4 separate regions of the Homo sapiens genome follow, and all the other regions are linked to region 3. Evidence: fine-mapped expression QTL. A gene starts in region 3. Each other region holds a variant in brackets. All regions are shown on one strand. Distances are between the middles of the regions. Region 1 overlaps ELOVL6 (ELOVL fatty acid elongase 6). Region 2 holds the start of LOC124900759 (a long non-coding RNA gene). Region 3 holds the start of ELOVL6 (ELOVL fatty acid elongase 6). Region 4 overlaps ELOVL6 (ELOVL fatty acid elongase 6).

Region 1 (5,433 bases), 22 kb after region 3:
ATAAATTAAGTTTTCATTGACCTTAGGCCAGACCATCAATAGCTTGCTAGTTGTCTTTAATATTAGCTTAAATTGTATTTTTTCATGTGAAAATGAAAATAAATATTCTTGTTTTCTCTTTATTTCATTTGGGTTTAATGATTTAATATTTTTGCCCTTTTCTTTTGAAATGGAATTTTGCTCTTGTTGCCCAGGCTGGAGTGCAGTGGCGTAATTTCGGCTCACTGCAACCTCAGCCTCCCGGTTTCAAGCAATTCTCCTGTCTCAGCCTCCTGAGTAGCTGGGATTACAGGCATGTGCCACCACACCCAGCTAATTTTTTGTATTTTTAGTAGAGATGGGGTTTCACCATGTTGGCCAGGCTGGTCTCGAACTCCTGACCTCAGGTGATCCATCCACCTCAGCCTCCTTAAATGCTGGGATTACAGGCATGAGCCACTATACCTGGCCTATTTTTGCCCTATTTTCTGAAGTTTACATACATGTATTTTATTTGTCTCGTCAATTAAATTGTATGTATCTGGAGGCCTAGAATTATGAAGGTATACATATAATCTTTTTTTTTTTAAAGATTTTACCTAACGTAGAGAACTACTAGGATTCATCTTGATAAATAAAAAAATACATACTTTTGCAGAGACACTTGTAAAAGCATAAACATTATCAGTTGTAGTTTTCTGCTTCTTGTGGATAGGCTTGGAGCAGGTAACTTTAATACATTGTAGAAAATTTAAGAAACACAAGTGAAAAGAAGAAAACAAATGTCACCCTGAGATATACACTAACATTTTGGTGTAAGTCTTTCAAAACTTTTTATCCATCTTTATGTTTTTGTTTGTTTGTTTTAGGACAGAGTCTCTCTCTGTCACCGAGGCTGCTGCAGCCTCAGTCTTCTGGCTCAAGTGATTCTCCAGCCTCAGGCTCCCAAGTAGCTGAGACTACAGGCAAGCACCACCACACCTGACTAATTTTTTGATTATTTGTAGAGACGAGGTCTCACTATGTTGCCCAGGTTGCTCTCAAGTTTCTGAGCTTAAGCAGTCCTGACTTGGCCTCTCAAAGTGCTGGGACTATAGGTGTGAGCCACCGCGTCTGGCCCATTTTCCTTTTTTTTTTTTTAGATGGAGTCTCACTCTCTGTCACTCAGGCTGGCGTGCAGTGGCACGATCTTGGCTCCATCTCAGCTCACTGCAACCTTCACCTCCCCAGTTCAAGCGATTCTTCTGCCTCAGCCTCCCAAGTAGTAGTGACTATAGGCGTGCGCCACCACACTCGGCTAATTTTTTTTTAGTAGAGATGGGTTTTCACCATATTGGACAGGCTGGTCTCGAACTCCTGACCTCAAGATCCGCCCACCTTGGCCTCCCCAAGTGCTGGAATTATAGTCGTGAGCCACTGTGCACGGCTCGTTTTCTTTTTTACAAAAATATTATCATAGTTTTCATACCATATTTTTCTGTAGCCTAACTTTTAAGAAATATATAGAATGGATATTTCTGCATGTTGTTAAATACTTCCTGCACCAAACTGTAAATGAGAGAATTTGTTTCTTTAATGTAATGTTCTGGCTGACACATGAAAAGCTTGAGGAGATGCATCTCACTCTTTTTAGGTAGCACATTATTTTTTAATCATTTTTAGACGACAGGGCAAAGAAAACTAGTAGCTTTAGAGAAACACAAAATATACTGAATAATAGTATTACAATTGTTTTAAGTTTGACCAGTCAGGTACAAAATGCAATAAGTTTCAGATTATTTTCTTCATGGATTATGTCATTTTTGGGTAATACTCATCAGTTTGGTGTGAAGAACATTTATGCCAATCAGGGAACTTTTAGGATGTTTTCAACTGCAAGTAACAGAACTTAATTAACTGTAGCCTAAAACATGAAGACTTTTAATTATTTCACATAACAATAACTTTGATTGGAAGCCTCAGTGGTTGTTTAGTGGTTTTAATAATGTTATCAATGACCTAGGTTCTATCTGAGTTTCCGTTTTGCCATTCATAATGTGTCAATAGTTTTTTCTTCATGGTCACAAGGTGGCTGCCATATCACCAAGCTTCCCACACAAGCATCTCAAGCAGAAAGAAAGGAGCAGTGGCATGGGAGCCTTTTTATTTGCTTTCTTGTCAAGGCAAAGCCTCCAAGCCAACTTGCACTCAGTAAGTTTATAAAAGGATATGCTCTTATTTTATTATTATTATTATTATTTATTAATTTATTTTTTAAGAAACAATGTTTCACTCTGTCAGCCAGGCTGGCGTGCAGTGGCATGATTACAGCTTATTGCAGTCTCATATTCCTGGGCTTAAATGATCCTCCTATCTTAGCCTCCCAAGTAGTTTGAACTACAGGACATGCCACCACACCTGACAAATTCTAAAATTTTTTGTAGAGATGGGGTCATGCTATGTTGCCCAGGTTGGTCTTGAACTCTTATCCTCAAGAAATCCTCCAGCCTTAGCCTCTCAATCACTGGGATTACAAGCATGAGCCAACATGCCTAGATCTGCTCTTATTATTGCTATAATTTCATGCCATCAGCCAGGCCTGGTGATGTGTTTCACTCTTGGACCATTCACTGACAGAGGATGGGGATTGCTTTCCTACACCAACTCTTAAATGACAAAGAGGCCGGGCGTGGTGGCTCACGCCTGTAATCTCGCACTTTGGGAGGCCGAGGCAGGCAGACCACCTGAGGTCAGGAGTTCGAGACCAGTCTGACCAACATGGAGAAACCCTGTCTCTTCTAAAAATACAAAATTAGCTGGGCATGGTGGCACATGCCTGTAATCCCAGCTACTCGGGAGGCTGAGGCAGGAGAATCGCTTGAACCTGGGAGACAGGTTGCAGTGAGCCGAGATCGTGCCATTGCACTCCAGCCTGGGCAACAAGAATGAAACTCCATCTCAAAAATAATGACAAAGAATGACAAAGAGAGTGATCGCCTTGAGAGGCTTAAACCAGTCT[T/C]GCACTTTGTCTCTCAAGGGCCAGGCACATTGCCCTCCACACAATATCGGGTAAAGTTTATCTGTTGGCAAAGGAGGGGGATTGGGTTGGCTATAAGTTATCTTTGACCACGCTAGCACAAAAATGTATACTCTCAGAAGAAAGAAACAATTTCAGGTTGCGGTAAAAATCATGTTGGGACTTTTTACATGACTCTTCACAAATGGAAATTTCTTCTAAAAAAATAGAAACTTTGAGGCTAGGCGCAGTGGCTCATGCCTGTAATCTCAGCACTTTGGGAGGCCAAGGTGGGCAGATCACAAAGTCAGGAGTTTGAAACCAGCCTGCCAACATGGTGAAACCCCATCTCTGTTAAAAATACAAAAATTATCCAGGTGTGATGGTATGTGCCTGTAGTCCCAGCTACTTGAGAGGCTGAGGCAGGAGAATCACTTGAACCTGGGAGGTGGAGGTTGCAGTGAGCCAAGATCACGCCACTGCATTCCAGCGTGAGCAACAGAGTGAGACTCCATCTCAAAAAATAAATAAATAAATAAATAAATAAGGTAGAAACATTGATTTATTCATGGTGTTGTTAAATGTAAACTATTGAGTAAATTACTCTTTAATCTCTGAAGATAGAGCTCTAGATACTTTCTTGTTCTTTTTTTTTTTTTTTAACTCACCACTATGCCAATGAGGAGAGCTCTAGATACAAACTTCCTAATGGAAGTGGAAGAATAATGATTTAAACAAGTACAAATGATTAAGAAAGAATAGTTTTACACATTACATGACATGAGATCCTAAAACATGACCCCACATTGAGAAAGCTCTGTGACCATTGATACTGGAATCTATCATTCATCATCAGTTACTCAGCACATAATAAAGATCTCACTTACCCTTCCTATGAAGGCATGACTTAGACTTTATTTGCTGTTACTGTCTCTGTTGGATCATATGATAGTAACATCATAAAGAGGGATGATAGATGTAATGTAACTCTAGGGCTAGACTGCCTGAGTTCTGATCCTTGTTCAGCTTTGTAACCTTGGAGAGGGTAAAAGTCTTCTATAAAGCATAGTTTAATAATAATAAACTAACCTGATAAGAGTTGTTATATTGATTAAATGAGTTAATATATGTAAAGCTTTCACTGATGCTGTATATGTTTTAGTTATGTTGTTATCATTGATGTTACTTACATATGTCAGTATTTAAAATTTTACACACTACATTTACTTTATCTCATAGTCTCCTTCAACCCTATAAAATAGGATTTTTCATCTCCATTTTATAGGTGAGAACATTATATTTATGTCTTTTTTTTTTGAGACAGAGTCTTGCTCTGTTGCCCAGGCTGGAGTGCAGTAGCGCAATGTTGGCTCACTGCAACCTCTCCCTCTGGGGTCAAGCGATTTTCATGTCCCAGCCTCCCGTGTAGCTGGGATTATAAGCGTGCACCACCACGCGTGGCTAATTTTTGTATTTTTTGTAGAGACAGTGTTTCGCCGTGTTGGCTGGCTGGTCTCAAACTCCTAGCCTCAAGTGATCTGCCCGCCTCAGCCTCCCAAAGTATTGCGATTACAGGCATGAGCCACTGTGACTGGCCGATACTTATGTCTTGATTGTATATGAGCCCAACAGTGATTTGATTTTTTTTTTTAGTTTTTTAAATTATAAATTATATTTATAGTATAAACAAATTATAACATACATGGAATTTACACATTCTTAGATTATTTGGTCCGTAAAATTAGATTAAGAAGAAGCGAAAGGAATGATTAGTTAATACATAGGATACTAACAAGTATCCTATGAGTTAATTGCACTCTATAAGAATAATTAGGTTGTTCATTTAGTGCATTATATTCTTGGGATGGTTTTAGGTGCATCTAAATCTAAATATGCCAACTTTGAAGCAAAAGTAAAAATGTAGGTAAAGGTCATGTTATATAGTGTGACAATTTCTTGTGCTTTACATGTATTCTATAGTTGTAGAATTTCCATCTGTGACTAATAGGTCTTATAGCAGAAAAGCAAATTCATTTTAGTGAACGTGTGTTGACATTATAGGAATGTCAACCTAGCACATCAGGAATTCTAAGGTCAATAGAAAACTTGGTAAGTCTAGTCTGATTCAGTAGGGCCACAGGCAAAAAGAGATACCATTTGACCTTTTTAAAAAATGTATGTTCAAAAGTAAAAGCATTCATTATTATGAGAATATATATTTAAAATGCCTGAAGGCCAGGCGCAGTGGCTCACACCTGTAATTTCAGCACTTGGGGAGGCCAAGGCAGGCAGATCACTTGAGGCCGGGGGTTCAAGACCAGCCTGGCCAACATGGTGAAACCCCATCTCTACTGAAAATACAAAAATCAGCCGGGCATATGGTGGGATGGGCCTGTAATCTCAGGTACTCAGGAGGCTGAGGCAGGAGAATCTCTTGAGTTGCGGAGGTGGAGGTTGCA
Region 2 (5,433 bases), 51 kb before region 3:
CGCAGATCTCATGACACAGGCTGGGGTGGAAGAACTGGAAAGTAAAAACAAGATACCTGCCACACAAGAGGTGAAGGTTGCTAATAATTTATACTGAAATCTGGAACACCATTTTTCCAAGCCAAGAGAAGATTGAATGGGTTTTTGCAGCTAACTACTATGTGTATACAGGTTTTATAAAAAGTGTGCATTCTTATCACATACTATATAGTTAGTCTATAGAGTGATTTACCCCCCAGTTTCTTAAACATAGTATCTTCACATCTTGGACCTTGGTCAATTTTGCTATTAACGATTAAACATTAAAACTTTGCTGGTTCCTGAAAAAAAACACACAAAAAAAAACACAGTTTTACTTTCCCAAATTCCTATTCTTCTTTGACCCAACTGGAGGCCACCCTCAGGTGCTTGGGTCAAGTCTTGTCCTTTCTTCAACAGCTTGCATCAACCTCCATCAAGACTGGGGTTGGAATAAATTAAGTGTCTGCTAGGCTAGGCTTCTTCAACCCCAGTGTCTCATGTGTTTCAGCCCTTCAACCAGTGAGTTTAGAAATCCTTAAAGAAATCTTCAGAACAAAATATAAGCATTATAGTGCTTACATCTCAGCACCTACACATCCCTAACAGCATTTTTCAAGTCAAAGCATATATTACATCTATTACAACCTAAATCCACATCATCATTGCCAGCCATAGATTATAGTAGATAGGGTATTAATATTATTGAGTGGAAGAATGTAGATTGTGAAAAATAGTAAAAGCATTATTATTGATAAATTAGCATGGGCTATTTGGAGAAATAATTTGTCTCAGACAACCAAGTGCAGCCTAGAACCAAAACACGCCAAAGGACCTACTTTGGCTCTTTCTCCCTAAGCATTTGAGCCTCAGACTTTTCCACTCCAGAAGGAAAAGCCCATCCACCAAAAAACAGCAGCAACAAAAAGCTTATCCAACAAAAAGTTCTGTTCTGAAAGACAGAAGAGGAGGGCTGGAATTTTCTAAATAATTCCCAGAGACTGGCTTCTTTCTTCTCAGGCCTGGGGAATAGCAGGGCCAGCTTACCTCACCAGCTGTTAGAAGAGAAGAAACCCACACAAGGCCAAAGAGCCCACCCAAGAGATGACAGAAATCAAAATAGTAGTTACCTGGAGGAATGGGTCTTGACTGAAAAGGGGCTCTAGAAAACTTTTCAGTGTCGTGAACAGGTTGTCTATTTTGATCTGAGTAGTGATTACATGTAGGTATACATAGGCAAACATTCATCAACCCATTCACTGAAGATTTGTACATATCACTGCATGTAAATTATACTGCAAAAAAAAAAAAGGAAAAACATTCTCACACACATGCAAAAAAAAACTTTCTTCCCAATAAGAAACACCCCAGCCTTTCCCCAATTTTCTGGATTACTAGAAGTGATTGATTCCAAAGAGAGAATAAAGAGACAGCCCAAAAGAGGAAGACGATGATCTCCAAGCTGACTTGTCCTCACCTCCATGAAATTTCATGGAAGGAAAAGCATCTCAAGGAAAGAGAGGCAAAGAGATTATCAGGGTTCCTCCAAGAGGAAACAATCCTGCACTCACCCTCGCAACTTGGGTCTCATGAAAGAGCATCCATTCAGAAAGTCATCACCTTAAGGTGCACTGTGACTTTAAATCCCTTTCATTAAAAACAACGTGTTCTCCTCTAGGTAAACCTGGCCAAATATATCTGAGAATTCCAAAAGAGCCGTTCTACCCTTTGAGCACTCTCTGCCTGAAAGCACAGTTGCACAATCGCAGTTCAATGAATCTGATTCATCCCCAGGGATATGCCGAATGATCTTCATTTTACAAGGGTTCTTACATTATTTAAATAGAGGAAATACTCCTTTAAAGGCATCAGTTAAGACTTAAAAAAAGAAAAAAGCACAAGAAAAAATATATGTATTAAATATTTTTAAATCTTAAGGCACTGCCATACCCGCATACCCCATGCATGGGCGGGATGGTGGTATCTTCTTCTCCAGCCTGCCCTTTGCCTCCTCACCCACAAACCACCACCACCACTCAGACAGATGGATTGTTCTGTGTTCCTTGACTGGGAAGAAGGATGTGTCAGCAGATAACAAACTTTAAAGGAGTTTATTCTTGAATTGGGATTTTAAAACGTAGGTCAGGCAGTTGGGATGTGTGAGCAGAAGAAAACTAAAAATAAAATAAAAAATGAAAAAATAAAACTTAAGTGCTTTAGAGGTCAAAAAGAAGCCATGCTACATACAGTATATTGAGGAAAACACATGAGTAAAAGGGAAATGTCCCAGTCTTACCCCTTCTCTCTCCAGTCTTCAGCCTCTAGACTAGAAAAGAGTCCTCAGCCTTGAGGAAGAGTTTATCTTACTTCAATGGAAACAGAGAAGTGGTAACAGAGAGTCTAATGGGTCCCAAAAAGAGGAAACTTGCCTCCAGCTCTTGGGCTGTGTAGTTGACATAACTAATTCCATCTTAGAAAAAGACTTCATTTTGGTTGGGCATGGTGGTTCATGCCTGTAATCCCAGCACTTTGGGAGGCCGACATGGGTGGATCATGAGGCCAGGAGTTCAAGACAAGCCTGGCAAAGATGGCAAAACCCCATCTCTACTAAAAATACAAAAATTAGCCAGTCGTGGTGGCAGGCGCCTATAATCCCAGCTACTCAGGAGGCTGAAGCAGGAGAATCACTTGAACCCCAGGAGGCGGAGGTTGCAGTGAGCTGAGGTTGTGCCACTGCACTCACTGGGCAACAGATTGAGACTCCGTCTCAAAGAAGAAGAAAAAGGACTCCATTTTATATTTCATAGAGCACTTTGCCAACAAGGATAAGATGTTCTGTTTAACAAACAAATTAAAAAAAGACTGCTGGCAACCAGATAAGGATGTAAACAAGTGTACTC[T/C]TCCACTATCAGTTCTTGCCAGAGAACTCTGTGACTGTAAAGGATTAGACCTTCTCCAGCTCGAAAACAGCTGTCTTAACTGACTGTCTTGCAGTCACTTGTGATAAGAATTTGGCACCTGCCACCGAAGGCTCTGCCACCTCAAAAACTCTTCTTTCGAGACCAAAGGGACCCCAGGGTGTGACCAGGACTCTTGTCTTCTTAGCTCCCACTGGACTGGTTCATTAATCCTTTCTCCTATCTCTTTTTCCTCTTGATGTTAAATGTTACTTTGTTTGTCATGGAATGTTTAACCTAAAACATTTCTATATTGATGAAATATACTATTATATATGGTTTGCAATATTGACTGACTTGTGGAGTGGCTTGAGTCTGTGTGCCCATGGCTCTGACTACAGAGTGAACAGGAAGTACTAAGAATTGCCTCCTTGGGAACTCCATGTAGCTCGTGGACTGGAATAGCATTAATAAAAGCCTGACATTGTGGAAAGACACACACATGCGTGGACCTGTTTAATCTTGCACCGCTCACGACTGGCTGAGGTCGAGGATGGAGTCAAAACCCCTAGATAGGCCGGTAGTCTCTGGAAGAAATAAAAACCTGGCCCCATTGCTCAGGCAGAGGCTCTGAAGAGAAATGACTGCATAGTGTGCCTGGGCAGATGGTACCAGACACAATGGCAGAAGCTTCCCTGTGCCCTGAACAGCATGAGAGCAGGGTAATTTCCATGCCTTCCCCACCCCCAGAGAAGCACAAAGCAGTACAGAGTGATGAAAAGAAAGGGCCTGTGGAAATGGGAATGTGGATCGTCTAGGCAATTGCATGGTTTATCATCTTAGGACCAGACAGGATGACAGCTATTCCAAGGGATGCCAGTGTCAGCAGATGACATCAAGGACCACACTGACCTTCTGCCTCCCCCTCAACAACCCAGCCATGGTCACTGCTAGCCCATAGGGCACTCTCGTGGAAATTAGAAAAAGACATCTGCAAAGTATGTGCTGCTTAGAGAATGAAGTGCAGATGAAATGTCAGCCCCCTAGGCTGTCTGCCCCACCTCCACCTCTAAGCTATGTGGCATAATACTTGAGAAACAGATCTCAAGACCAGGCACAGTGGCTGGCACAGGTAATCCCCATGCTTTGGGAGGCCAAGGCAAAGCAACATAAGGAGATCTAATCTCCACAAAAAAAAAAAAAAAATTAGCCAGGCATGGTTGCGCATGCCTGTGGTCCCAGCTACTTTGGAGGTTGAAGTGGGAGGATGGCTTTGGCCTGGGAGGTTGAGGCTGCAATGAGCCATGACTGTGCCACTGCTCTCCAGCCTGGGTGACAGAGCCAGACCCCGTCTTAAAAAAAAAAAAAGGAAATAGACCTCAGGTGGTGTGATCTTTAGACCCGTTTCACACAACCTCCAAACCTGGCTGAACAGCAAAGACTAGCTCATCTCAGGGAATTTAGCTGAAAATCTCAAGCAAACTTAATATATAGCAAGGTAAAATAACATAATTCAAAAAACAAAACTACAGTTAAGGAAATATAACAATATCCACAAGATACAAAAGTTTGTTTTATTGTAATATTATTTTGATGCTTAGTTTTTATCACAAAATTCTATTTCACACCATAATACTTGATAATTTATTCTATGTAGACACAGAGAGGAAAGGGGACCTGGTGGAAATATGAGCTAACCAGTTAACAAAGAGGGGTGCAGACTCTAAACCAGAACAACCACAGGGAAGAACATCTCATCCAAATTCTGAGCTTTATAAAAAAAGAAAACTGGGAGCAAGAGAAAATTATGTTTGCATACGATTTAGGAATCTTTAAATCATTTTCACATACCTTTGTTGATTCCTGAAATATCCCTGCTTCCATGGAGCAGAAATTATTACCTTCTGTTCAGGAGAATGGACTATAAAACAGCAACTCATAGGGAAAAAAAAGAATGTGATAAAGAAGTGAAGAAAGGGGAAGCATGAGATATAAAAGTTTTATTTTTAAACACAGCTATCCATTGACATGGGAAAAATGTGGGATGGGATTCTGAATGATTTTTTTATCCCCTTCCCTTCTTTATACTTCTCTACAGATTTTTTTTTTTTTTTTTTTTTGAGACAGGGTCTCACTCTGATGTCCAGGCTGGAGTGCAGTGGCGTGACATCGGCTCACTGCAATTTCTGCCTCCCGGGTTCAAGCAATTCTCCTGCCTCAGCCTCCCTAGTAGCTGGGATTGCAGGCACCTACCACCATGCCCGGCTAATTTTTTCATTGTTAGTAGAGATGGAGGTTCACCATGTTGGCCAGGCTGGTCTGGAACTCCTGACAAGTGATCTGCCCACCTCGGCCTCTCAAAGTGCTGGAATTAAGGCGTGAGCCATTGCACCCAGCATTTTTCCACAGATTTTTTTATATGCAAAAATTCCTTTTATTATAAGAAGGAGGAAAAGACAAAATTAGCAAGAACTTAATTTGTTTTTTTATTTTTTTAATTAATTAATGAATTTTTTTT
Region 3 (5,433 bases):
TGGCACATTCCTGTAATCCCAGCTACTTGGAAGGCTGAGACAGGAGACTCACTTGATCCCAGGAGGCAAAGGTTGCAGTGAGCCGAGATCGCGCCACTGCACTCCAGCCTGGGCAACAGAGGGAGACATCATCTCAAAAAAAAAAATAATTCTGGTGAATTAATGGTGTGGATTTAAAATTGTGATATATGCTGGGTGCCTATAGTCCTAGCGTGGAAAACATAACAAGTCCCCATCTCTAAAAAATAAATGAAATTATCATATAGGCTGCCAAATTGCTTTCCATACAGAGTCACCAGTTTTCAAAGTCACTGACAGTGCTTGTTTGTTTTTGAGATAAGGTCTCACTCTGTCACCCAAGCCGGACTGCAGTGGTGTGATCATGGCTCACTGCAGCCTTGACCTCCCAGGCTCAAGCTATCCTCCCATCTCAGCCTCCAGAGTAACTGGGATTACAGGCATGTACCACCACACCTGGCTAATTTTTAATTTTTTGTAGAGATGGAGCCTCACTATGTTGCCCAGTCTGGTCTCTAGCAATTGTCTTGCCTCAGCCACCCAAAGTGGATTTTCTGTCTTGATTCCTTTCTCACTTCTTACCTTAATTTATTTGATGAATCATTCACTTTACAAATATTTATTGATTATTCACAGGCTCAGGCACCGTGCTAAAATGGTTCTTTCTTATCTGGCCACACCTATCTTCCAGCCCAATCTTGCCAAGAGTTTTGGCCTGGGCCTTACTTCAAAGTGACGTAGACTTGTACTGTAGAGGTCTCTAGAAAGACAACCCTTGGCTGGGCATGGTGGCTCATGCCTGTAATCCCAGAACTTTGGGAGGCTGAGACAGGTGGATCACAGCCAGCCTGGCCAACATGGTGAAACCCCATCTCTACTAAAAACACAAAAATTAGGCGGGCGTGGTGGTGCTTGCCTATAATCCCAGCTACTGGGGAGGCTGAGGCAAGAGAACCATTTGAACCTGGGAGGCGGAGGTTGCAGTGAGCCGAGTTTGCACCACTGCACTCCAGCCTGGGCAACAGGGCGAGACTCCTCCATCTCAAAAAAAAAAAGAAAAAGAAAAAAGAAAGACAACCCTTAATGGGGGAGATGAGGACAGTCCCTACACAGAATCTTTGGCAGTGTCAATGTATACATTAATTTGCTAATCAACTAGGCTAGCCCTTTAATCTATATATTGTACTGGATTTTAAAAATTATTTCTTTACTTTCTCATTAGACCTTCCTCTTTTTTTTTTTTGTTTGTTTGTTTGGAGACAGAGTCTCCCTCTGTCGCCCAGGCTGGAGTGCAGTGGCAGAATTTTGGCTCACTGCAACCTCTACCTCACGGGTTCAAGCGATTCTCCTGCCTCAGCCTCCTGAGTAGCTGAGGTTACAGGTGCCCGCCACCACGCCTGCCTGATTTTTATATTTTTAGTAGAGACGGAGTTTCACCATGTTGGCCAGGCTGTTTTGAACTCCTGACCTCAGGTGATCCGCCCACCTCGGCCTCCCAAAGTGCTGGGATTACTTCTGTGAGCCACCACCGCGGCCGGTCCCTTCCTCCTTTAAAAATTTTTCTCCCAGTTCCCACTTTTTGTGGGTTAGAGGCATCTAAATTGAATGAAAGTACCCTTTTTGGACTACTGGGGAGGTGGGGGGATGTTCTCAGAAGGGGAATTTTCTTTCTGGTCCTAATATCCACCTAATTTTTAAAAGCAGGGCTCCTTATTATTTTGTAAAGTTTACAATTACATCATTAGATACTTCCATGTCTCATATTTCATTTTTCCAAACTCTTGGGGGAAATGAGTGGAGGGATGGATGGAATAGAAAATAGTTTTTCCTCTTGGAGGCTGAGGGCCCAGTAGGGGTCAACAGTACATTCAGCCCTCTCCTCACATATTCTGTTCTACCTACAAGTACAGCAAGTAAAGCCAAATTTCTCATGCATGCAAATAAAGTTTTTGCATTTGGCCAGTCGGTCCAGTTCTCCTGTCAGCTTCCTTCCCCACTCTGCCTCTGTTCATTAATCCCCCCCTTCCCGGTACCTAAACCCTCCACCTAACCCAGCCCTTTCTTCCACTTCCGGCTACTAGCCTCTCTCGCCTATCCACTATCCTCACACTCAGCATCCCCTGTCTGTACGAGATTAAGGAGCTCTGCCGTCCGCAGGGCCTGGGTTAGCGTGAATCTAAGCCAGAGCTCCCGGGTGGGGGTGGGGGTAGGGGTGGGGGTGGTCCCAGAGGTAGGGCGAGGAGGTGGGAAGCGTATTCCCTTCACTGGTGATCTCAACGTAGATTTGCCCGGAGTTCTCTTGCAAGAGAGCTGGCAGGTTTTACTATTTCCCAATCGTTTACTCGCCAAGCTCTCGGGTCCACGCGCCGCGGGGATGCGCCCTGCAAGCTGAAACTTCATTCAAAGCAAGGCGGCCCACGAGGTTGGGCTTAGGGGATCTGGATGACCTCCAGGCCACTTCCTTTCTCTCTGCGCCCTTCCCCCACTCTTCCAACCACCTTCGCTGTAAACAAAACTGTCCCCCCCGGGCGGAGAGAGGTCGCGCTCTTTCGCACACTCCCTCGCCAAGGGTTAATTTCTCAAATCGCACGAGGGGGAGGAGATTTCCCTGTAGACGAGTAAAAAGGGTGATGGACAAACGTGCGGGCACTAAGACCGCAAGGCATTCATTTCCTCCTACGGTGGATGCGGACGCCGGGAGGAGGAGAGCCCCAGAGAGAGGAGCTGGGAGCGGAGGCGCAGGCAATGCTCAGCCCTGGATGTAGCTGAGAGGCTGGGAGAAGAGACGACCGCTGGAGACCGAGCGGCGTGGGGAAGACCTAGGGGGGTGGGTGGGGGAAGCAGACAGGAGAACACTCGAAATCAAGCGCTTTACAGATTATTTTATTTTGTATAGAGAACACGTAGCGACTCCGAAGATCAGCCCCAATGAACATGTCAGTGTTGACTTTACAAGAATATGAATTCGAAAAGCAGTTCAACGAGAATGAAGCCATCCAATGGATGCAGGAAAACTGGTACGTGATGCTTTCGCCTGATACTGTTCCCGGGAGCCCTGCGCGTCTTCCCGGAGTGCCTTAATGTCGGTATTCCCTGCCTGGGCGTGAATGGAGCGATGAATCGCGGGCAGCCAGCTGATCGCTGAGTTCTCGGGTCTCCCGGGTGCAGGAGACGCTGGGGGGGGGGGGGTACATGAAGCGCGAGGTCTGTGGGTGCCCCTGTGTGAACCGCGGCTACATAGGCATCTTTTATATAGATTATATAACACAGAACATATGTGTGTGCACAGGGTGATGTCTGCGCGACAGGGAAGGCGGGAGAGATGCCACAGTCCAGATCGCCTACCTGTGCTCCCCTCCCCTCCCCCGGTTTTCATCTAGATTTGGGTTTTCTCGCTTGGCCTCTCCCGCAACCGGAGTGTGAAAGGCAGTGGAGGGAGGACCTTGTCTCCTGTTGCCTTTAACCCTCTCCCGCCCGCCGCCCTTGGCCCTGGTCCTCGCTGTCTCTCCATCCCTCGTGTCCTTCCTTTCTCCTTGCAGCGCTCCTACTTCACCGTCCTCCTCTGTCTGCCGCTCCTCAGGCGGATGCCCCCTTTTTAGTACCCCTTTCCCCACGCGGTTCCCTTTCCGGTTTCATAGAGAGACCGGGTGGGAGGGAGGAGGGGACAATGAAAACAGTAATAAATGAATGAACCCGAGCGAGTGGAGCCACGCCATTATTAAGTTTCTGTTTTACGGAAACGCCTTTTGGACACACTTCTAATTCTGTGCGTAGCTGCTGATTGGAGTTCAGGCACACAGATTAAAAGCCCCTCCGTCTGCAGAGTCCTTAGGGGCTCTTCCCTAGGAAACTAATAATCAGGGAAAACACCTTTCTTGTTTACTGTAGTCCCCCCGCCAGACCTTTTGAAAATCCCTGTGTGGGAGGCGATCCAGTGTCACCTTGCAATATTTAACAGAGGAGGGTGTGCTCATCTCGCTTCTTGTAGACAGGGTTGTGGCAGAGGCATTCCTCTCCTCCCCTTAACTTCGGGTCTGGCGATCTGTAAAGTTCAAGCCCAACGCACCCCGGAGCTAGGCAAGGGGCCGGCAGCCCGGGGGATGGCTTGACCGGGGAGGGTCGGGCCGCAGGGTCTCCCGGGAGCCGGGGGATTCCGCCCGCCGCGTGCGCGAGCGCGCGTGCCCCGCGCCCTCCCGCCTGCCCTCTTCAACTGGAAACCAGAAACGCCGGCGCGCCTGTGGCCTGGGCGGGTTGGTGCAGTAGGAGCTGGTGCCACGGGGCCGCAGCTGCGAAAAGGGGGTTTCAACTTCCTGTCCTCCAGCCCCCTGGAGTCGCCGGCCAGTGTCGGGAGGCCCGGCCGCCGCTTCCTTCTCCTCCCGCCCGGCCGGAGCGCGCCCACTCCCAGCTTCCCGCGGGCTGGTCCGGGCCCCAATGGCCATTTGCGGCGGCTGCCGGGCGGAGCCCGCCTCCTGGGCCGCGCGCACCGGCGGGGCAGGCCTGCTTGGGGTGAGCTGCGGCGTGGCTGGTGGCGGCGGTGGGCTAGGGGCCCAAGGGCCGCGTCTGGCCCGAGCCGGAGCCTAAGAGGCGGGGACGCGGGCCGCTCGGAAGGACTGGAAGTGCAGCAGCCACACAGGCACAGGGCTGGTGCCCTCCCGGGCCGCTGAGGCCAGGGGGTGCAGGGGTGGGTCCGGAAGGAGGTTGGACACTAAGGGTCGAGACCGCAGATAGACCTCGGCGTTTCGGGGCAGCCGAGGCCCCTCGAGCCCCACCGCCCGGGGTCCTTCTCTGGATGCACTTCCTCCTCCCGCTTAGGGGGTGGTGCTGGAGGCGGGGAGGGGGCGGTGGCCGGAGCCGGCGGGCGCCGGAACCGCGCTGCTGGCTAGCCCCGGGCCCGGGTCTTCTCCGCACATGTTTGTCATATCCTCCAGCCGGCCTGTTCGGGCCCACAGTCCTCCCGCATTAGCCTGTGTGGTCAGTGTGGTCAGCATTTGCTTCTGTGCCGAATCTCTGACTTGCTGCGTCCTGGTTTAACCTGCTCTTCCGGAGTCCGCTTTCCCTCGCTTTGCTGGCTGACCCCATTCACTGTACGCCCGCCATTCCTAGCCCACTGCAGTCGATACTGCCTCTTATTTACTTGTTGCTTTTTCTCTGAGGCCACTTCCTAGGCCTGCTTCAGGTACCATTTCCCGCCTCTTCTCTCCATTCACTCAGTACTGAGCCAGACAGGTCTCAGCCCTCGTGGGACTGAAAATGACAAAAATGTGCCAACGTATCTACTCCTGTTAGGTTCTGACCACTGTTTCCTCCTAGTTCTTTATCTGTACCTTTCTTCTGGCAATATCCTTTACTGTTATATACATGGTTATTAACTTACAGACCATCAGCTCTTCAGGTTACGGTTCTTGTCATCCCACT
Region 4 (5,433 bases), 48 kb after region 3:
TTTTAATCCTCCACTATTAATTATCAATTAAGTTTTAGCCCACCATCTATAAGTAGCATTTAAATTATCACACTATTAAAGTTTAAATCACTCAAAAGAGATAAGTAGGTAGTAATTGCTGTCATTGTATTTTGAAGATTAATATTTTGAGCAAAAAATTAAATTATGTATAAGGTCTCATAAGTTATGGAAGCTACCTACTTTCTGCAGAATGGTATGTGTACCACAATTTTACTGTAATTATAATTCCCTTTTCACTATTATTATTAAATCTTAACAGTGATACCAGAAAGTTTTCATAATGTACATTTTGGTTATAATTGTTTCTTCATCTCTGTCAGGGTTCTGGTTTCCTACTTACAAGCTGACACAGGTTGTGCTGCCTGATCATCATTAAAATGTGAATTTCTTATTTTCAAAACCATACCCAAAGGCACATCAAAAAGAAGTGGTTCGTCAACTACTGTGTCATTCCTGCTCTTCAATAGACCAGTGTTTATACTCACGGAGGGGTCACATAGGTTTGGCATCCTCCTTTTGAGAGACGAAGGATTGTCTTTGCTAATTTGAAAAAGCAAATTTTGAAAGAATGAAATGTTCATTTTGAAATAAGGTTTCTAGGACAGTGCAGTAAAATGCTTTCCCCTTCTAAAATTTTCTGAAATATTTTTAGCCTTCTAACATAAGTGCATGTGTACGCACACACTCACATACACTATATATAGCAACCTGGTTGTCACAATCCTCACTACTTCTACGTGTGATCTGTGTATGTGAACCAGCAGCATCACTGCAGAGCTTGCCAGAGATGCAGAATCTCAGGCAGGCCCCACCCCAGACCCACTGAATCAGAATGTGCATTTCAACAAGATTCCCAGGTGTTTCATATGTTCAAATATATCCACAGTGTGAGAAGCTCTGGTATCAGGCATCACTGCCTGGCAGAAAGGCCGGGCGTGGCACTATCTGTATTTTCACGGAATAAATTCTCATTCAGTGACTGAGAGAACCCTTTGTTCTTTTTAAAACAAAGGTGATCCTGAGCTGGGTGTCAGAGAGGTAAGATTTGGGAAAGTAAAGGTTTTATAATTCTAATAGGATGACAATAGCAGCTATATATATAATGCCAGGAAATAATACAGGAGACTCTACCGTGATAGATGGGTTTTTTCCTCAATCATTTTGTCTCTGATCGTGTATTTAGTTAATTCTCTGCAAAGAGAAGTGTCCATAATAGGACTTGATATGACATAAGGTATGCCCTCTTGATAGTCTTTAAGGAAACTTTATTATAGGGTAACCCAACCAATATTAAGTTTTAAAGATATTTTGGGGGGGCATATGGGAGGGCCAAGAGCCAAATCAATAGCAGTCAGCTATTTAGAATGAATCTTCTCATGAATATTTATCTTACTGTTACTCTGTATTAAACTCCCTTTTATTTTACATCTAGGATTTCTACCCAGTTTAGAACTTAGAGATGCCAATATTTTCAGATAAGGACTTTTTAGTTGTTGAATGCTATAACTTGTGTAATATTAATATTCACTGACTGATGATTAAATGTACCCTGTACAATCCATTATCTAAGTTAATCTTCACAGCAGTCCTAGGCAACAACGGACTTTTAAAATCTCCTTTTTACTGACGAGGAAACTCAGAAACCAAGAGATTAAGTAATTCACCAAACATTGTACAGCTAGTAAGTGGGAGAAGCAGGTGTTAAGTCTAGGATCTCTCATTCAAAAGTCCATCTCTTATTTATGATACAAGATTGCCTTTTAGACTTCTTTATGGCCCACAAATGCTGTCTCTTAATGGGCAGGCATGTCAAATCTCAACATCATTATTGGCCTTTTGGTAAATAATTACATATATAGAAGTCTTCTGACACACCCAAGCATCTATCCCATAGGTCAAACCCAAATACTGATCTTATTGGCAACTCATTAATATAACAATGGTACAAATTGAACATCCCTAATCTGAAAATCTGAAATCAGAAATGCTTCAACTCCGAAACTTTTTGAGTGCTAACATGACACCAAAAGTGGAAAATTCCACACCAGACCTCAAGTTGTAGGTCCAGACAAAACTTTGTTTAATGCATAAAATTATTAAAATTATTATATAAAATTACCTTTAGGCTATGTTTATAAGGTGTATATGAAACAATCAATTTTGTGTTTAGACTTGGGTCTCATCCCTAAGATATCTCATTATGTATATATAAATATTCCAAAATCCAAAAAAAAAAAAATCTGAAATCTGAAACACTTCTGGTTGGTCCCAAGCATTTTGGATAAAAGATACTC[A/G]ACCTGTATTAAAAAATATTGAAATCTTTAGTCATGTAGAATTTATGCAATTAAAAGGTGCTGAAATTCAGTTAAGAATTTCAAAGTTAAAGTTTATATTTTAAATTTTTTTTTTTTTTTCAGACGGAGTCTTCCTCTGTCTCTCAGGCTGGAGTGCAGTGGCACGATCTTGGCTCACTGCAACCTCCGCCTCCCAGGTTCAAGCAGTTTTCCTGCCTCAGCCTCCTGCGTAGCTGGGATTACAGGCATGTGCCACCACGTCTGGCTAATTTTTGTATTTTTAGTAGAGACAGAGTTTCACCATGTTGGCCAGGCTGGTCTCAAACTCCTGACCTCAGGTGATCCGTCCACCTCGGCTTCCCAAAGTGCTGGGACTACAGGCCTGAGCCACCGTGCCCGGCCCTAAAACTGTATTTTTATTTTAAAATATGAATATCTATTATCACTAAGTAATAAAATTAAAGCTTGGAAATGAAAGGATCATACAATGCAAGAGTATCTAAAGTCATTTAAATAATGTCAAGAATAATGTTTTAATTATTCTGCTCTTAGAATTTTAAGCATTTTTAGTTTTAAAAATAAAAATGGAGTATTTTTGACAATATTTTGCTTAACATTCCCTAATTGCTGAGAAATCATCTGTTTCAGAAATTAGCCATTGACAGATAATGAGTTTGAGATTCCCTTTTGCCAGAAAAAATTGTAGTAACATACAATAATATGGAAATTGCCAGTATGTTTGGGTATTTATTAGATTGAGAACTATTTCAAACACATCTAGATCAATCTGTAAGCAAAGAATCCAAAACTTGTGAGTTTATTTCTTGTCGCCTGTCTGTTTAAGTCTGACAGTTTAGGCAAGGAGAATGTCTTATGAATTTGAGTATAATGAATTTGTGGAGGGGTTTTACTGAATGCATTTTCAGGATTATTTTGAAAATACATGAAGTAGACTGAACACGGTGGCTCACACCTGTAATTCCAGCACTTTGGGAGGCCGAAGCAGAAGGATTGCTTGAGTTCAGGAGTTCAGGACCAGCCTGGGCCACATAGTGAGACGGTGTCTCTATGAAAAACTAAAACTAAAACTAAAAATAAAATGCATGAAGTAAATGCAGAAAAAAAAAGAAACAGTTTCCATTCAAATTTCTACTTTTCAAATCTGAAACACATAACTGTTCACTCTCACTACATGATGTACTTGTTTTAAGGGGAAGAAAAATTCAAGATTTAAGAAGGCATTTATTTACGCTCTCAAAAATCTATAGGATACAGTCTTTGAAAATGAATACATTTATTAATTATTTTTGGGGTGCTTACAACATGTTTTTCTATGTTGGTCTTTTCTAAGTGGAGATTTTTCTATGTAGGCAGATAAATACCAGTATTAGGAAGAGATATATATTTATACTCATGGAGTACAAGTGCAGTTTTGTCACATGAATATACTGCATTGTGGTGAAGTCAGGCCTTCATTGCATCCATCAGTGGAGCAACACACTTCGTACCCACCAAGCAACCTGCCATCATCTATCACCCCATGCCTCCAAGTCTTCATTGTCCATCATTTCACACTCTGCTTCTTCTGTACAAATTATTTAGCTTCCACTTGTGAGAACATGTGGTATTTGTCTGTGTCTGAATTGTTTCACTTAAGATAATGGCCTCCGGTTCTATACATGTTGCTGAAAAAGACATGATCTCAATCTTTTTATGACTGAGTAGTATTCATTGTGTACACATAACACATTTTCTTTATTCGGTCCTCCACTGATGGACACTTAAGTCGATTCCATATGTTTGATATTGTGAACAGAGCTGTGATAAACATAAAAGGGCAGGTATCTTTTTGATATAATGATTTCATTTCCTTTGGGTGTATACCCAGCAGTGGGATTGCTGGATCAAAGGTTAGTCGTATTTTTAGTTCTCGAAGAAATCTCCATAGTTTTCCATACAGGTTGTACTAATTGATTTGCATTCCCGTCAACAATACAGAAGAGCTGGGTGCGGTGGCTCACACCTGTAATCCCAGCACTTTCGGAAGCCAAGATGGGTGGATCTCTTGAGCCCAGGAGTTCAAGACCAGCCTCAGCAACATGGTGAAACCTTGTCTCTACTAAAAATACAACAAATTAGCTGGGCATAGTGGCTTGTGCCTGTAATCCCAGCTACTTGGGAGGCCAAGGCAGGAGAATCGCTTGAGCCTGGGAGATTGACCTTGCAGTGAGCTGTGATGGTAGCACTGCACTCCAGCCTGGGCAACAGAGCGAGACTCTGTCTCAAAATAAAACAGAACAAAAAGTATATAAGCGTTCACTTTCCTCTGCATCCTTACCAACATCTGTTATTTTTTTGTCCTTTTTAAAAAAATTATTTTAAATTTTTGTGGGTACACAGTAAGTGTATATATTTATGGGGTACATGAGATGTTTTGATACAGGCATGCAGTGTATAATAATCACTTCATGGAAAATGGTGTATCCATCCCCTCAAGCATTTATCCTTTGTGTTACAAACAGTCCAATTATACTCTTAGTTATTTTTCAATGTAAAATTAAATTATTGACTATGCTTACCCTGTTGTGCTATCAAATACTAGGTCTTATTCATTCCTTCTATTTTTTTACGTATGTGCCCATTAACCATTCCTACCTCCCCCCCTCCCCCGCACAACCCCCTTCTGGGCCTCTGGTAACCATCTTTCTACTCTCTATCTCCATGAGTTCAACTGTTTAGATTGTACAAATAAGTGGGAACAGAGAAGATGCAGCGTTTGTCTTTCTGTGCCTGGCTTATTTCACTTAGCATAATGACCTCCAGTTCCATCCATGTTGTACATGTATTTTTTGTCCTTTAATAATAGCCATTCTGATTGGTATAAGATGATGTTTCACTGTGGTTTTAATTTGAATTTTTCTGATGACTAGTGATTTTGAACATTTTTTCATATGCTTCTTGGCTATTTGTTTGTCTTTTGAAAAATGTCTGTTCCTACCCTAAACCCACTTGTTAATGGGATGATTATTTGGCTTTTTTTTTTTTTTTTTTTTGAGACCGAGTTTTGCTCTTGTTGCCCAGGTTGGACTGCAATGGCACAATCTCGGCTCACTGCAAC

What was found. PIP is the estimated chance that this variant, and not a neighbour inherited with it, causes the effect.
Region 1: its variant is the best candidate, but not a certain one, in a credible set for the expression of ELOVL6 in blood mononuclear cells (TOPMed, PIP 0.58).
Region 2: its variant is the best candidate, but not a certain one, in a credible set for the expression of ELOVL6 in whole blood (INTERVAL, PIP 0.83).
Region 4: its variant is the best candidate, but not a certain one, in a credible set for the expression of ELOVL6 in blood mononuclear cells (TOPMed, PIP 0.69).

What each region holds. Positions count from the first base shown.
Region 1 is chr4:110,174,240-110,179,672 of GRCh38, reverse strand. All of the region lies in intron 1 of ELOVL6 (ELOVL fatty acid elongase 6), which reads left to right. Among named protein-coding and RNA genes, the nearest start is that of ELOVL6, 22 kb to the left of the region's middle. The variant T/C (reference allele first, on the strand shown) is at 2,978.
Region 2 is chr4:110,246,512-110,251,944 of GRCh38, reverse strand. LOC124900759 (a long non-coding RNA gene) reads right to left here and starts at 4,891. Exons shown (of 3, transcript XR_007058229.1): 1 at 4,767-4,891; 2 at 1,149-1,313. It also overlaps the pseudogene HSBP1P2. RefSeq lists a cis regulatory region at 2,764-3,178. The variant T/C (reference allele first, on the strand shown) is at 2,919.
Region 3 is chr4:110,195,849-110,201,281 of GRCh38, reverse strand. ELOVL6 (ELOVL fatty acid elongase 6) reads left to right here and starts at 2,667. Exons shown (of 4, transcript NM_024090.3): 1 at 2,667-3,035. The coding sequence starts at 2,947. RefSeq lists enhancers at 2,294-3,086, 4,675-4,969 and silencers at 4,001-4,630, 4,831-4,940.
Region 4 is chr4:110,148,045-110,153,477 of GRCh38, reverse strand. All of the region lies in intron 1 of ELOVL6 (ELOVL fatty acid elongase 6), which reads left to right. Among named protein-coding and RNA genes, the nearest start is that of ELOVL6, 48 kb to the left of the region's middle. The variant A/G (reference allele first, on the strand shown) is at 2,316.